2 separate regions of the Homo sapiens genome follow, and region 1 is linked to region 2. The links come from fine-mapping of genetic effects on gene expression. Tissue or cell type: esophagus muscle. Region 2 holds a variant in brackets; the other region holds the start of a gene. All regions are shown on one strand. Distances are between the middles of the regions.

Region 1 (8,100 bases), 290 kb before region 2:
AGGCATGAGCCACCACACCTGGCCTATGTGAGTGCACAATTCTGTATCCAAACGTGTATGAGTGGATCTGTGTACCTCTGTACACCTGTATGGTGTACAGGGGCATTCCTCTACGTACAGATGAGTGTCTGTGTGACTGTGGCTGGTGTGGGTCTCCAAGTTTGTCTACTGTGTCTCTTTGTACACCCGTGTGTCTACACATCGTTTATCTGTTTGCATCTCAATGCTATGGGGCTCTGTATTTGTGTACTGTGCATGTTTGTGTGTGTGTCTCCCCTCAGGAGCTGTGATGTGGTACTGTCAAATGTCAACCCCAGCCCCTCACCCTGGCCAATTCCTGTCACATTCATGCCCTGCTGGGCTGAGATGCGGCCAAGAAGGGCTGTATTGGGAGGGAAAGCCTTGGGCTTAAACCTGGCTACTGTGCTCGGGGCCCAGGACCCTTCTGGGTGGAAGTTATGTCTCTGCTCCCAGGATCTCCAAGACCCAAGCCTGGTGAGAAGCTGGGCCCCTGAACCTGGGCACAATGACAACAGGCTCTGCTCTAACAAAATAACACCCACCTTTAAAGGAAGAAAAATGTGAGCTGGACCCATACATCAACAATGATCCTGTAGGCCTTCAACTCAGAGGGGTGGGGCTGGGTAGGAGTGCTGACCCCAGACACTCACACTCTTCTCCTCCAGAAAGCAGGGCCAGTCCCCAACCAGAGGAGAGGTGGAGGGGACACAGTGGCCCCAGGGTCAATGGGCCTGGAGTTAATCATCTACTCTGGTATCTCTGGGCCCCATTGGCTGCCTGGGGACACGGCCCTCTGGGATGAAGCCCAAAGGAGTCAGAAGCCGCTTCCCAGCCCATTTCCACCTCATAGGCTCAGGGGCAATGGAGCTGATTCAGTCAGCAGGGACTGAATTGGGTGGATCCCTAGGAAGCCCCCATCTGAGGGAGATACCAGTCCTGCCCTCAGGGAGCCCCAGTCTGAGTCAAAGAGGACAGAGACAAGAAGGAATTCTGAGTGGAGAGGGGTCAGCAGGGGTGGCCTGCTGTGATGAAGAGCTGGCCTTGCAGCCTAGGGAAAGAGAAGCACATTTGGGTTGAAGGAGTTTGGAGAGGAAAACTATTATGCCCCTGGAGGCTAAGACCTCCTCCTCCAGTGGATTCTGAGAAGTGTGTGTGTGGCCGGGCCTGAGAGTAAAGAGGGAAGAGAAAGAAGGCCCTGGAGGTGGCCCCACCAGGTAGGGGGTGCAGCCCCTCCACGCCATTGCTTCATGCTTTGCCTTGGAACCCAAGATTTCTAAGTGGGAAAACAAAAAAACTCAATGAGGAGGTCCTATGTCAGCCCCTCCTTCCACTACAGAGTCTCCCCCCCGGGACAGTGTGTCCGAGGGGTGGGGGACTGCGGGGAAGATCCCAGAAACGGGTAAGCGCACTCACTCGGCCTCCCCTGGAGACTCCTCAGGAGGGAAGTAGCCCAAGCCCTGCTCCCCAAAAAGGCAGAGCCCCAGGTGTCAGGACTCCAGCATGGGGAGACAAAACCACGTGCAAGAAAGCAGGGAGGAGCAGGGGTAGGAACTGAGGGTGCTTAGGGTCTGGCCATGCCACTGACGAGCTGTGTGACCTTGGCCAGGTCACCTCCCCTCTACAACAACAGAGGGTCCTCTTTCCCCCTCTACAACAACAGAGGGTCTGACTGGATCAGAGTGTACCCAAGGGCAGGATGTGTGCAGCTGACAGTGCCCAGCACATGGACACAGTATGAAGTAACATTGAATCATATCCTGTGAATGTTTTCAAGCCTTTCAACTCCTTTCCAAAACTTGCTTAACAGCATGGATCTGGAGCAGAACTGCTTCCTAGACCAGCTCCACGGCTTGTGAGCTGAGTGACCCTGATCCTCACATATTTCTGTACCTCCATTTTCTCATCTGTAAAATGGGAATAATGATAATAGCTATCCTGGAGTCACTGAGAGGATTAAATGAATGACTATTTGTGAAGTCCTTTGCATAGTGCCTAGCATTCGACATGTGTTAGCTATTCCTCTACCACACAGAAGGCTTTGCTTGGTGCTAGGGTATCTTTAACACATGGCACCTGCTAACCTTCCATGTTACCAAGAAAGCAGGCAAGCTATGCAGATGGAATATAATGGAATGTAATAACATTGTTTTCCTCTCACTTGATTCTTTTTTAATTTTGATTTTAATTTTAATTTTAATTTTTTTGAGACAGGGTCTCATTCTGTCGCCCAGACGGGAGTGCAGTGGCACAGTCTCAGTTCACCGCAATCTCCTCCTCCCAGGCTCAAGTGATTCTCTGGCCTCCTGAGTAGCTGGGATTACAGAAACATGCCACTACTGCCTGGCTAATTTTTGTATTTTTAGTAGAGATGGGGTTTCACCATGTTGGCCAGGCTGGTCTTGAACTTCTGACCTCAAATGACCCACCCGCCTCCTCACTTGATTCTTAAGGCTTATGGCAAGTGATACTGGCCTAGTTACAGACCTAACATGGATAAACTTTAAGTTTAAAAAGGTTAAAGAGGGCCGGGCGTGGTGGCTCACGCCTGTAATCCCAGCACTTTGGGAGGCTGAGGCAGGTGGATCACGAGGTCAGGAGTTTGAGACAATCCTGGCCAACATGGTGAAACCCTGTCTCTACTAAAAATACAAAGATTAGCCGGGTGTGATGGTGTCTGCCTGTAATCCCTGCTACTCAGGAGGCTGAGGCAGGAGAATCGCTTGAACCCAGAAGGCGGGGATTACAGTGAGCCGAGATCGCAACACTGCACTCCAGCCTGGGCAATAGGGTGGGACTCCATCTCAAACAAACAAACAAACAAAAAAAAAAAAAAAAAAAAGGGTTACAGAGGTCGAGTGAAGTAGCTCACACCTGTAATCCCAGCACCTTGGGAGGCAGAAGTGGGAGGACTGCTTGAGCTCAGGAGTTCACGAACAGTCTGGGCAACATGGTGAACACCCGTCTTCAAAAAAAATAATTTTTTTTTAAATCAGCTGGGCATGGTGGTGTGCATTTGTGGTCCCAGCTACTAGGGAGACTGAGGCAGGAGGATCATTTGAACCTGGGAGGTGGAGGCTGCAGTGAGCTATGATTGCACCACTGTACTGCAGCCTGGGCAACAACAGAGTGAGACCCTATCTCAAAAACCAAAATAAAAAACTCTATTTTATTTTATTTTTACCAGATGTGATATTCGATAAAGAAAAGCATTAACACTAAAGTATTATAAGTTTTGAGGGGTGTTTTGAGGATATCACAGAATTCCTCAAGCTGGTACCCAGTGACTGGAGTTTGGCAAACCCTGGTAACCTCATGGTCATTCATTAGGATCTTTTTTGAGCTCAGGCAACAGGACAGACAAGGCCAGCACCACCCGCCCCCGCCCTCCCACTGCCCCCCTTCTTCTACTCTTTCCAGCGCCCTCCTTCCAGCCCCCTGCCCAGCCCTGTGCTCAAAGCCACCTACAGTCCCTTCTTCTCTGGTCAGAATGCCAATCATCCAAGGCCCTGCAGACTCCCAAAGCCGCCCCTGGAACCTACCTTGGCAGCAGATTAAAGACAACCCGCCACATTTAGTCTCGGCCCCATGACCGATAGTGGGTTCAGTTCCTCCAGGGGCGGGGGAGCCTAGTGGCCCCGCCCCCTGACTCATGGCCTGACCCTCCTCAAACGCACCCAGAGGAGACTCCTGGTCCCCTGTCCGGACCCCGCCCCGACCAGGTCCAGCCCCGCCCAACGGCAAGTTAAGAGCCCCCCAGTGCCAGACGCTCCAGACAGACTGCCACTCTTGGGGGGCAAGAGTTGGTTGTCGTCATGGCGACGGCGCTGATGGCTGTGGTTCTGCGGGCAGCTGCTGTAGCCCCGAGGCTGAGAGGCCGGGGAGGCACTGGGGGCGCCCGAAGGCTGAGCTGTGGCGCGCGGCGGCGGGCGGCGAGGGGCACCAGCCCGGGGCGCCGGCTCAGCACCGCCTGGTCGCAGCCCCAGCCCCCGCCCGAGGAGTACGCGGGCGCGGACGACGTCTCCCAGTCGCCCGTCGCCGAGGAGCCGTCGTGGGTGCCGAGTCCCAGGCCCCCGGTGCCCCACGAGTCCCCAGAGCCTCCTTCGGGCCGCTCGCTGGTGCAGCGGGACATCCAGGCCTTCCTGAACCAGTGCGGGGCCAGCCCTGGGGAGGCGCGCCACTGGCTCACGCAGTTCCAGACCTGCCATCACTCCGCGGACAAGCCCTTCGCCGTCATCGAGGTGAGCGGAGCCCGGCGTGGGCCGTGACGCAGCGAGGGGATGGGGTTGTGCGGCCACCTGTCCTCAGGCATGGCAGGATACGCTGCGGGCTCTGCGCAGCGGAAGCGGGAAGGAGCCCGGCAGGGCCCAGACCAGCGCCGCCGGGAATGGGAGAGGCCGTAAGCTCCTCCGGAAGCCTCCCGCCCAGCCCGAGTGAGGATCCTGGGGGACCCCACCCGCCAGGTGTGATGCTCTGAAGAAGGCCCCCAACATGGGCGCAGTTAGGGGTTCAGAAGGACCTGGACAGGAGCCGCTTGCACTGCCCCTCCCCCAAAGATGTCCCGGAGTCCAAGGTCGGAGGGAGGAGGGCGGGAGGTACCCCAGCGTGAGACAAGGGAGTGGCAAGACCCAACGGGGCAAAGGGCGGAGCAGGTGGGCACTGGTGGCCAGAACTGGGTCCTGACAGCTTCTGGAAGGGTAGGGTCACCGAGACGGCCCTGCAGGCCAGGCTGTGGGAGCCAGCGGCTCAGGTCCGTGTCACGCTCCTTGAAAGCCCACTCCTCCGCAGGTGGACGAGGAGGTGCTCAAGTGCCAGCAGGGCGTATCCAGTCTGGCCTTTGCCCTGGCCTTCTTGCAGCGCATGGACATGAAGCCGCTGGTGGTCCTGGGGCTGCCGGCCCCTACGGCTCCCTCGGGCTGTCTTTCCTTCTGGGAGGCCAAGGCGCAGCTGGCCAAGAGCTGCAAGGTGCTGGTAGACGCGCTTCGACACAACGCCGCCGCTGCTGTGCCATTTTTTGGCGGCGGGTCTGTGCTACGCGCTGCCGAGCCGGCTCCCCATGCCAGGTGAGTGCCCGCCCTGCCCGCCCAGGCGTCCTCAGAGCGTGCTACTCTGCCCGCCCTGCCCCGTCCGGCAGGCCTGGAGGGGGCCCTCTCGAGCACCACGTCTGGCCCACAGCTACGGCGGCATCGTCTCGGTGGAGACAGACCTGCTGCAGTGGTGCCTGGAGTCGGGCAGCATCCCCATCCTGTGCCCCATCGGGGAGACGGCCGCGCGCCGCTCCGTGCTTCTCGACTCCCTGGAGGTGACCGCGTCGCTGGCCAAGGCGCTGCGGCCCACCAAAATCATCTTCCTCAATAACACAGGCGGCCTGCGCGACAGCAGTCATAAGGTGCGGCCCTTTCTTTCACCTTCCCCCACGCCGGCGATCCGGGCCTTCTCTTGCGCCCCTCGCACTTCTCCCCGACGGGCCGCAGACTCACTAGCAAGCCGGGTGGGTAGAAAAGCCTAAGGGAGTATAGGGGAGGAGTTCAGCCCTGGGTGCCCAGATCTGCGCCCTCCCTGGCTAAGGACTCCGGGCGGAAGTAAGGATAAAGGGGTCAGAGAAAAGAGAGGTCCGTGGGGGTAGGGGGGCAGTCCGTGCCGGCTGTGGGCCAGGCTCACCCGCTGACTCCGGACACAGGTCCTGAGTAACGTGAACCTGCCCGCCGACCTGGACCTGGTGTGCAACGCCGAGTGGGTGAGCACAAAAGAACGGCAGCAGATGCGGCTCATCGTGGACGTGCTCAGCCGCCTGCCCCACCACTCCTCGGCCGTCATCACCGCCGCTAGCACGCTGCTCACTGAGCTCTTTAGCAACAAGGGTGAGGGCGGTGGGCGGGCCGGGGACTGGGTCCCGGGAGTGAGTACTGGCCGGGGCTGGGTGTCTGCGGTCAGGAGGAGCGGCTTCTCCTCCTGTCCAGGAGCCGTAGGGGGAGGCGGGGGGTGTCACAGCAATGGCTCCTGCTGCTGCCGAAACCCGGGGGAGGTGAGAGAGGAGGAGACCCAGTGTACTGGAAGGGAACTCCGAAGGAATTAAAGGAATGGGCGGGACTAGGGGGGAGAAGGAGGGGCCCCCCGGTGGGCGGGGCCAGGGGCGGGACCATAAGGGAGGTGTTCGACCGGGAGAGATGGGCGGGGCTTAGGTGGGTGGGCCGGGTCAGCGGCGGGAGACAGACTTCAAGGAGCGAGGCAAGACTAACGGAAGTGGGTGGGGCTCCAGGCGACAGGAGGAACTTGGGGCACAATCTCTGCCTGGGGAAAGCATCTCCTTGAATGAAAATCACAGACAAATCTATGCAGACCACTGAAATCATTTCACTGTGGAGGTCTCCCAAAGACGGAAATTGTCCCACCAGCGCCTGTCCTACCTGCAGTCCCCACCAGGCTGCGCAAACGGCCCTCCAGCCAGACTAGCCCCTCCCCATCCTCCTCCAGGGTCCGGGACCCTGTTCAAGAACGCCGAGCGAATGCTACGGGTGCGCAGCCTGGACAAGCTGGACCAGGGCCGTCTAGTGGACCTGGTCAACGCCAGCTTCGGCAAGAAGCTCAGGGACGACTACCTGGCCTCGCTGCGCCCGCGGCTGCACTCCATCTACGTCTCCGAGGGGTAAGCCTGCGGACCCCAGAGGGCGGGGTCTGGGGGGCAGTCGGGCAGCTTCGGACCAAGGAGAGGTCCCAGCCTGCCGCTCTCCCGCTGCGCCAGGTACAACGCCGCCGCCATTCTGACCATGGAGCCCGTCCTGGGGGGCACCCCGTACCTGGACAAATTTGTGGTGAGCTCCAGCCGCCAGGGCCAAGGCTCCGGCCAGATGCTGTGGGAGTGCCTGCGGCGGGACCTTCAGACACTTTTCTGGCGCTCCCGGGTCACCAACCCCATCAATCCCTGGTAGGTCCTGCCACTCCCAGCTCTGGGCTGGGCCCTGACTTCCCTCCCCTCTCCCACCCTTGCCAACCATGCCAAGAAGGCTGGGCTTCCTCTTCTTCCACTGGTCTCCCTTTCACTACCTCCCAGGGGCAGAACACACAGAAAGCCTGAGATTTCCCGAGTTAAAGCATGCTTAACACTCCTTTTCTGGCAGCAAGTGACACCTCCTAAGCCCCACGCAGCCCACCTCTCACAGGGGCCTGAGGAATCCTAACCCTTCAGGGTCTATTGGAGGCCTGCGGCGCCTCCAGTGGAACATCCCTCCTCTCTCCTTCAGTAACTACCCCCTCACCCCTACACCCTGCTCTGTGAGCACTAGGAAGTGAGCAAGAACCCTCCTCTTTGCTGCACAGCCAAGGCAGTGTGGAGAGCAAAGCACCCGCTCCCTTCCTGTGTGCGCCTGGCAAGGTACCTAACTTCTCTGAGCCTTAGCTGCTTCTCTGTGAGCTGAGCATCACAATGCCAGGCTCAGGCCTCTGCTGTGAGGATAAAATGAGATAACACACAGCAGGACCAAGCTGGGTGCCCAGCATGCAGTAGGTCCTCAATCAATGTTTTTTAAAGACAGAACCAGTGAGTAATGAACACTGGCCTTGCCCTAAAAACTGTTTCCTACATCACCTCCCCACACCCAGGTACTTCAAACACAGTGATGGCAGCTTCTCCAACAAGCAGTGGATCTTCTTCTGGTTTGGCCTGGCTGATATCCGGGACTCCTATGAGTTGGTCAACCACGCCAAGGGACTGCCAGACTCCTTTCACAAGCCAGCTTCTGACCCAGGCAGCTGACCCTCACCATGGACACTACAGGCCCTGGAATGGCCAGGGTGGACCAAAAGCCATGCCAGCTGGGCATGACCCCAGGCAGCCAGCCACAGGCTGAAGGGGGCTTGTTGGCTGAGTGATCTGCAGAGGAGAAAGCAGCCCCAGCTCTGCCCAGAGGAGGCGCTGAAGTGGGACAAGCACAGGAAAGAAGGGGACCAGTCTAGGACCCCAACTCGACTCACTCTAAAGCTACAACCAAATGGCCTTCGATTTTCAACCTGGGGATTAGGGGAGGGGAGGGTGCCTTCCAGGGCTCTACTCAGGACTAACCCTAAGGGTGAGCTAGTTTCTGT
Region 2 (8,100 bases):
ATCTGGAATGCACCATTTCCATGGTAGGATGGATTATTGCTGCACCTGCTCAACTGTGTCACTTGGTGTATCTGACAGTTCCCGCTTCGCAATGGGCAGCTCTGATCACATCACCATACCTGTCCAATGGTCAGGTCTCTGCAGCACAACCGAAGACTTCTTTTTTTGAGACAGAGACTTGTTCTCTTACCCAGGCTGGAGTGCAGTGGCACAATCTCGGCTCACTGCAACCTCCACTTCCTGGGTTCACGCCATTCTCGTGCCTCAGCCTCCCGAGTAGCTGGGACTACAAGCGTGCACCACCACACCTGACTAATTTTTGTATTTTTAGTAGACAGGGTTTCACCATGTTGGCCAGGCTGGTCTCGAACTCCTGACCTCAGGTGATCCCTTGACCTCCCAAAGTGCTGGCATTACAGGTGTGAGCCGATGCACCCGGCCAGAAGATTATTTTTTAAAACCGGAACAGTCCTCTGCTGTAGATGGCATGGCCTTGCTCCAGAACCTTCTGGGCTTGCCAGAGACTCCCCAAAGCATCCTATGAATCATAGATAGATGGCATCTGCTAGGCTATATGAGCCCAAGTGGCAGGGAACTTTGCATTTTGGCCTGGACTGAAAAAAACCTCTCTTGTTGTGGGCCCCACTCAAAACCAGCAGCCTTCGGAGTTCCCTGAAAATTAGTTGGAGCAGTATTTCCAAGTGTGGCATGTGCCATCTCCCATATCTGAAGGGGCTTGCCAGGCTTTGTGCATCTTTCCTAGGGATAGGAGACACATGGTGGTGCCAGTTCACTGGACTCTGACAAATTTTGCAAAGATCCTTGAGTCTTTGTAGGATTTATCCTCCAACCTCTGGCAAGCACGTGCCTTGCCACTTTCTGTTCACCAGGTTCCATTAGCTCAATGTCGTCGGTACAATGGATTGTGTGATGTTGTGTGGAATGCCAAGATGATCAAGGTTTCTGCTCTATTATGACAGAAAGCAGGACAGTTAACATAGCCCTGGGGTAAGACTGTGGATGTGGACTTTTGTCTGTCCTCAGGGAAAGGAATCGGCTTTTTTTTTTGAGACTGAGTCTCGCTATGTTGCCCCCGCTAGAGTACAGTGGCTCGATCTCGGCTCACTGCAACCTCCCTCTCCCGGGTTCAAGTGATTCTCGTGCCTCAGTCTCCTGAGTAGCTGGGATTACAGGTACCCACCACCACGTCTGGCTAATTCCTGTATTTTTAGTAGAGACAGGGTTTCACCATCTTGGTCAGGCTGGTCTCAAACTCCTGACTTCAAGTGATCTGCCTGCCTTGGCCTCCCAAAGTGCTGGTATTACAGGCGTGAGCCACCGAGCCTGGCAGGAATCTGCTTCTAATCTTACTTCCTTCAACAAATTAACAGTCATGGACTAAATGGCAGGGACTCTGTTGATCTGTTCTAAGAAAGCTAACACATCTGGCACAGCACTCAATCAGGGCGCCACTTGGTTATGTGCACCCTCATCTACAATGATCCATCTGGTTTTTGCAAGAGCCAGATTGATGAATTAAATGGGGATATCCTGGGAACCACCACTTTTATATCCTTTGTGAGTGACTCCAACCACTGCCATTCCACCTGGGCTGGGGCATTGCTTCTGATTAACTCTCTTGGGAGGGAGATGAGGAAGCAATTTCTAATTGGCCTTTCCTACCCTAATGACTCTTATTTCATTCTTTTTTTTTTTGGAGATGGTTTCATTATGTCACACAGGGTGGAGTGCAGTGGTACAATCTCAGCTCACTGCAATCTTGACCTCCCTGGCTTAACCAATCCTCCCACCTCAGTGTCCTGAGTAGCTGGGACTACAGGAGTGTGCCACGATACCCAGCTAATTTAAAAAAATTTTTTTGTAGAGATGAGGTTTCACTATTTTGCCCAGGCTGCTCTCAAACTCCTGGGCTCAAGTGATCCTCCCACCTTGGCCTCCACACTTGGGATTACAGGTGTGGTAATGGCTCTTATTTCAGGAAACCAACGCGAGAGATCTGCTATCTACTAAGTACCTCTATTCCACTATGTATTCAGGGGCCAGGGAAATAACCATCAAGCAGACTGATGGGCCAGATCTCCTTTCATCACCTGGCCTCCATATGCCCCACACTAATACATGCCCATGATGGCATTTTGGTTCCTTAATATTAGTGTCAGTTCCAACTCTGTATCCAAAAGCCTTGAAAGATCTGAGTATTTCCCTTTCCCCAGGATGCAGTTGCTCTGATAAGCAGCTGTAAGTACCTTTGGGGGAAGAATAGGATAATTACCATGATATAAACTTGCCATGGCATTGTAGGATTCTTCCTGAAGGGAACTGGCCCCCACTTCAATGAAAGGGCTCTATATTTGGCCACGTTTGGTGGCTCACATGTGTAATCCCAGCACTTTGGGAGGCCGAGGTGGCACATCACTTGAGGTGAGGAGTTCGAGACCAGCCTGGCCAACATGGTGAAACCCCGTCTCTACTAAAAATACAAAAAATTAGCTAGGTGTGGTGGCGAGCACCTGTAATCCCAGCTACTTGGGAGGCTGAGGCAGGAGAACCGCTTGAACCTGGGAGGTGGAGGTTACAGTGAGCCAAGATTGCACCACTGCACTCCAGCCTGGGTGACAGAGCAAGACTCCATCTCAAAAAAAAAAAAAAAAAAAAAAAAGACAAAGGGCTCTATATCTGAAAACTGGTTTGGGCCTGGAAACTGGGTATGGGATGGGGATTTTCCTTTGCAGTGGCTAACTTCAGCCTTCTGCTGTCTCATTCTTGCTTGTTTTTATAAGCAAGAGATACCCTCCTTCACCATCCTCCTATCTGGGAACACCATGGTCTCTTGGTCATCACAATAGATCCCTGCTTACATTTCTGGTCTTTCTGCCTATTACGGTAATTATGTCCACTTAGCCTCTCATGACCACGTGCTGTCGCCTGACCTCGTTCTGGACTCCTGTTATACCCACTGACTCTAGAAAGGCTAGTCCCATAGCAGCTCCCGCTACCATTGCTCTGGCCTGCTGAGGACAGCTACCACTGACCTGCAAATGCCAGTGGCCCTGTTCCAACTAGCACCTTTTGTATCACTTTATTTATTGAGTATTTCTGGGCCCTCATGAAGAACACAGTAGGCTGGAGGGTTCTATAGTCTTATATAATAGTCATTTTATTCTGGCATGCCCACTTTTCTGAGCCTTTATTCTTCCAAGTATTCTGTCAAGGAAGTTCCAACATCTCTACCTCATTTGCTGGAACTCATAGTTTTTCCACACTTTGAAGATCTATCC[C/T]GGGGGCATATTGCAACAGGCTTCTGGTGTCCTTGCCAAGCTTTAAAATGTTAAATCCCAGGCCAGGCGTGATGGCTCACTCCTGTAATCTCAGCACTTTGGGAGGCCAAGGCAGATGGATCACTTGAGGTCATGAGTTTGAGACCAGACTGGTCAACATGGTGAAAACCCGTCTCTACTAAAAATACAAAAATTAGCCCGGTATGGTGGTGTGCACCTGTAATCCCAGCTACTCGGGAGGCTGAGGCAGGAGAATTGCTTGAACTCAGGAGGCGGAGGTTGCAGTGAGCCTAGATCGCACCATTGCACTCCAGCCTGGGTTACAGAGCAAGACTCATCTCAAAATAAATAATAAATAAATAAATAAATAAATAAATAAATAAATAATAAATAAAATAAAATAAAATGTTAAATCCTTACCAGGTAGGGCATTCCATATCAATAAACGTACCCTTATTCAGCATTTTTTTTTTTTTTCTGAGACGGAGTCTTACTCTGTTACCCAGGCTGGAGTGCAGTGGTGCGATCTAGACTCACTGCCAACCTCCACTGCCCGGGTTCAAGGGACTTTTGTGCCTCAGCCTCCTGAGTAGCTGGGAGTACAGGCACACGCCACCAGGCCCAGCTAATTTTTTTGTATTTTTAGTAGAGATGGGGTTTCACCATGTTGGCCATGCTGTTCTCGAATTCCTGACCTCAGGTGATCCTCCCGCCTCAGTCTCCCAAAGTGCTGGGATTACAGGAATGAGCCACCCGACCCGGCCTTACTCAGCCTTATATTCCACCCCCTGACCCCAGTCTAACACCCTCAAGATATGTTCCCAAACATGTTCTGCCAAATTCTTCTGGTAAATGTTCACCAGCTCCTGCAGGTCTTTTGGTGAATCATCCTTTTCTTTCCATAGATGGGACAGTGCTTCCCCACTTGGTCCCTGATGAGACTTGACCATTGTTATTGGTCTAGAGTCATGGAGGGGAGTCAACATCAGGCTTTGAAGAGGGCAAGTATCATCTTGTGAGGCGTCTGCCTCAGGTGAGGAATCTGCATGTTATCTAGGCAAGGGGAGGCTGCTCTCTTCCACCCAGGGGGAGAGGCCAATTCTGCCAGCCCAAATAACTCAGCATAATAAGGGGGTTTTAGAACAGATGTTCCCATACCAGGCCTCAGGATCCCACTCCTTCCCTCCCAGGGCCCTGACCTGCTGGGGCTTTAAATATAAAACCCTGCTACTCTTGCAATCAGATTATAGGACTGATTTTCATCACAGTCTGCCCTGCACAGGAGGTGAGGGTTTCCTTACATGCTGCCATAGAGGTCTTCTGGTTTTTGTTTTGTTTTAAGATAGGGTCTTGCTCTGTCGCCCAGGCTGGAATGCAATGGCACAATCATGGCTCACTGCAGCCTCAACCTCCTGGGCTCAAGTGATCCTCCCACCTCAGCCTTCTGAATAGCTGGGAACACAGGTGCTCACCACCATACCCAGATAATTTATTTTTTGTAGAGACAGGGTATTCCTATGTTGCTGGGGCTTGTCTCGAACTCCTGGGCTCAAGTGATCCTCCCAAAGTGCTGGGATTACAGGTGTGAGCCCGGCTTCTTCTAGCTTTTAACTATATCATAAATTGATAGCTGGCTGATGTGAGTCTGTCTTTTATTCTTTTAACCCTTTGATGGCATTAACAGCAACCAAACAACTCCTTTTTTTTTTTTTTTTGATGACAGAGTGAGACTCTGTCATCCAGGCAGGAGTGCAGTGGCGCAATCTCAGCTCACTGCAGCCTCTGCCTTGTGGCTTCAAGTGATTCTCGTGCCTCAGCTTCCCTAGTAGCTGAGATTACAGGTGCCTGCCACCACACCCAGCTAATTTTTGTATTTTTAGTAGAGACAGGGTTTGCCATGTTGGCCAGGCTGGTCACGAACTCCTGACCTCAAGTCATTCACCCGCCTTGGCCTCCCAAACTGCTGGGATTACAGGCATGAACCACTGAGCCCAGTCTCCACAGTCCTTATAATTACCATTTTCCTCTTACACCTCAAATACTAGAGCTATTGCATAGGCAGTGCATCCCTGTCTGCATCCCATTTCACCAGGGTGACAGTCTGACGATCAGTCCAGTTCTCCAGTGGGTATTAGTACCCCACTTACCTCAGCAATGGAATCTTTGGGCCATCTGGATGATGAGTGATCCAAAACCAGAATCTTATCCTGGGGGTCTACTTCCTAGGACAACTTTGGATATCAAATGTGTTGGTTTGGGTTCCCTCCAGAAGTAGAACCTGAGTCAAGGATTCAAAGGAAAGTATTTATTTGAGAAACACAAGTGTTTATTTGAAAAGCGATGCTAGGAATACCAAGCAAGCCAGTGGGAGACTGACATTGGAAAGAAAGGAGGCTCATAAAGGGTGTGTTATCAAGCAAGTTAAAAACATGGACAACCGGCCGGGTGCGGTGGCTCACACCTGTAATCCCAGCACTTTGGGAGGCCAAGGCAGGTGGATCACCTGAGGTCGGGAGTTCGAGACCAGCCTAACCGACATAGAGAAACCCCGTTTCTACTAAAAATACAAAATTAGCCGAGCGTGGTGGCACATGGCTATAATCCCAGCTACTTGGGAGGCTGAGGCAGGGGAATTGCTTGAACCCAGGAGGCGGAGGTTGCAGTGAGCCAAGATTGCACCATTGCACTCCAGCCTGGGCAACAAGAGTGAGACTCTGTCTCAAAAACAAACAAAACAACAACAACAAAACAAACAAACAAACAAACAAAACACGTGGACAACCAGAGCTTAATCCTAAGAAGGAACTCAGGGAGCCAGTCATAATGTTTGCTGCAGGACCTGAGGGATGAGGAAGCTGGCTATTTACGCACCGATCCCCATCGGTGATTGGCTGAAGGTTGCTGTGGCTGGGAGTATAATTCCCCAGAACTTTCAGCCTGCTCAGCAGGCTCCAGTGGCCAGAGAGAGTCCTTAGATAAAGAGCTGCAGGTTCTGGCAGCTGGAAGTTCATCCAGTGAACCCAAGAGCTTCAGGAACATGGGAGGGCACTGCCAGCATCTGCCACACTAAGGGAGGAATCCTTTCACGAGGAGATACTGCAATGGTTCCACTACCTGGAAGATAAGGCTCTCACCTGAGCTCAGGGCAAAAAAGGGGTTACCTTCTGGGATGACTGATCCCAAATGCCAAGGGTAAGCTGGGTTCTAACTCCAAAAGAAAGGCAGGGAGGACTATGTCTGGAACCCAGGGGACTCCCTGGTGTGCCATGTCCTATTTCCGTGTCCAATAGTAAAAGTTAAAAAAAAAAGAGCAATACAGTTCTGAGGATTCCAATTTGTAGAATGCTAATTTCAAGAATAAAGGTTTATTCTTGAAACCTTTATTTTAAGAATAAAGGTTTGGGGGCCGGGCGTGGTGGCTCATGCCTGTAATCCCAGCATTTTGGGAGGCCAAGATGGGCGGATCACCAGGTCAGGGGTTTGAGACCAGCCTGGCCAAGAGACCAGCCTGGCCAATATGGTGCAACCTTCTCTCTACTAAAAATACAAAAATTAGCCGGGCATGGTCGTGGGCGCCTGTAAATCCAGCTACTCAGGAGGCTGAGGCAGGAGAATTGCTTGAACCCGGGAGACGGAGGTTGCATTGAGCTGAGATCGCGCCACTGCACTCCAGCCTGGGTGACAGAGCGAGACTCCGTCTCAAAAAAAAAAACAACAATAATAATAATAACAATAATAAAAATAAAGAATACAGATTTGGGGCCAGGCACGGTGGCTCACGCCTGTAATCCCAGCACTTTGGGAGGCAAGGTGGGTGGGGATCACTTGAGGTCAGGAGTTCGAGACCAGTCTGGCCAAAATGGTGAAACCCTGTCTCTACTAAAAAAAATACAAAAATTAGCCAGGTGTGGTGGTTGGTGGGCACCCGTATTCCCAGCTACTCTGGAGGCTGAGGCACGAGAATCCCTTGAACCCTTCAAGGGTAATGGAAGAGGAAAGTTATAATATCAGCTTCTGACCAGATATAGAAGCAAGGATTGTAGAAGCCATGGGCATGTTTTCTCTTGCTTGTTTTGTTATATACACTCTTTAAATATTGGTTAACTTTCCTCTCCTTCTTTTCTCTTATTTTTTATGAGGATTGTTGTTGGTGATGACCTTCATAATTTAGGTTGCAGAATACTCTAGAGGACATGTGGCTGAACTAGGAGAATTCACATCACACGGAAAGGGATCCCATTGCTGTAGAGACTTTGCGTCTCTGCTTTTGGGGGAGGGCCCCAGAGCATCTTCATTTGAGCAAAGGACAGTTGCATCTATTAGGCAAAGGGATGAAGCTGTTATTATTCAAATATGATGGATAGATGTGTAACTACTGCATAGAAAAAAGGGGTAGATAATGCCAGTTATTTGCTTATTGACTTTCAGCTTCAAATTCATTCTTATTTTCTCTGCTCTCTGATGTTGGAAGGGGGCTGGGACTCTGCAAACCAGTTCCCTAGCCTCCATTACTGTCCTGTTAGGTTCTGCTTGTAGGCGGTGCACACATGGGTGATAAAAATATAAAGAAAAGCAAGGAAATGATTATCACAAAAGTTGAAATATGAACAAGGAATAAAGCTGGAGGACTTATACTTCCTGATTTTAAAACTCACTGCAAAGCTACATTCATCAAAATAGAGTGGTATTGGCATAGAGACAGACGTATAGACCAATGAAATAGAACAGAGGCCCTCATGTAAACTCTTACACACATGAGCAAGTGATTTCTTTTCTTTTTTTTTTTGAGACGGGGTCTCGC

Evidence for each region. PIP is the estimated chance that this variant, and not a neighbour inherited with it, causes the effect.
Region 1: it holds the start of NAGS, and the variant in region 2 is fine-mapped to the expression of NAGS in esophagus muscle (GTEx, PIP 0.99).

Annotation. Positions count from the first base shown.
Region 1 is chr17:44,000,831-44,008,930 of GRCh38, forward strand. NAGS (N-acetylglutamate synthase) reads left to right here and starts at 3,792. Exons shown (of 7, transcript NM_153006.3): 1 at 3,792-4,259; 2 at 4,807-5,081; 3 at 5,194-5,407; 4 at 5,699-5,879; 5 at 6,493-6,664; 6 at 6,761-6,943; 7 at 7,618-8,100. The coding sequence starts at 3,834. The coding sequence ends at 7,771. It also overlaps a transcript of PYY not described here. RefSeq lists an enhancer at 4,715-5,470.
Region 2 is chr17:44,293,964-44,302,063 of GRCh38, forward strand. RUNDC3A-AS1 (RUNDC3A antisense RNA 1) reads right to left here. Exons shown (of 4, transcript NR_110802.1): 4 at 5,611-8,100. Among named protein-coding and RNA genes, the nearest start is that of RUNDC3A-AS1, 10 kb to the right of the region's middle. The variant C/T (reference allele first, on the strand shown) is at 3,300.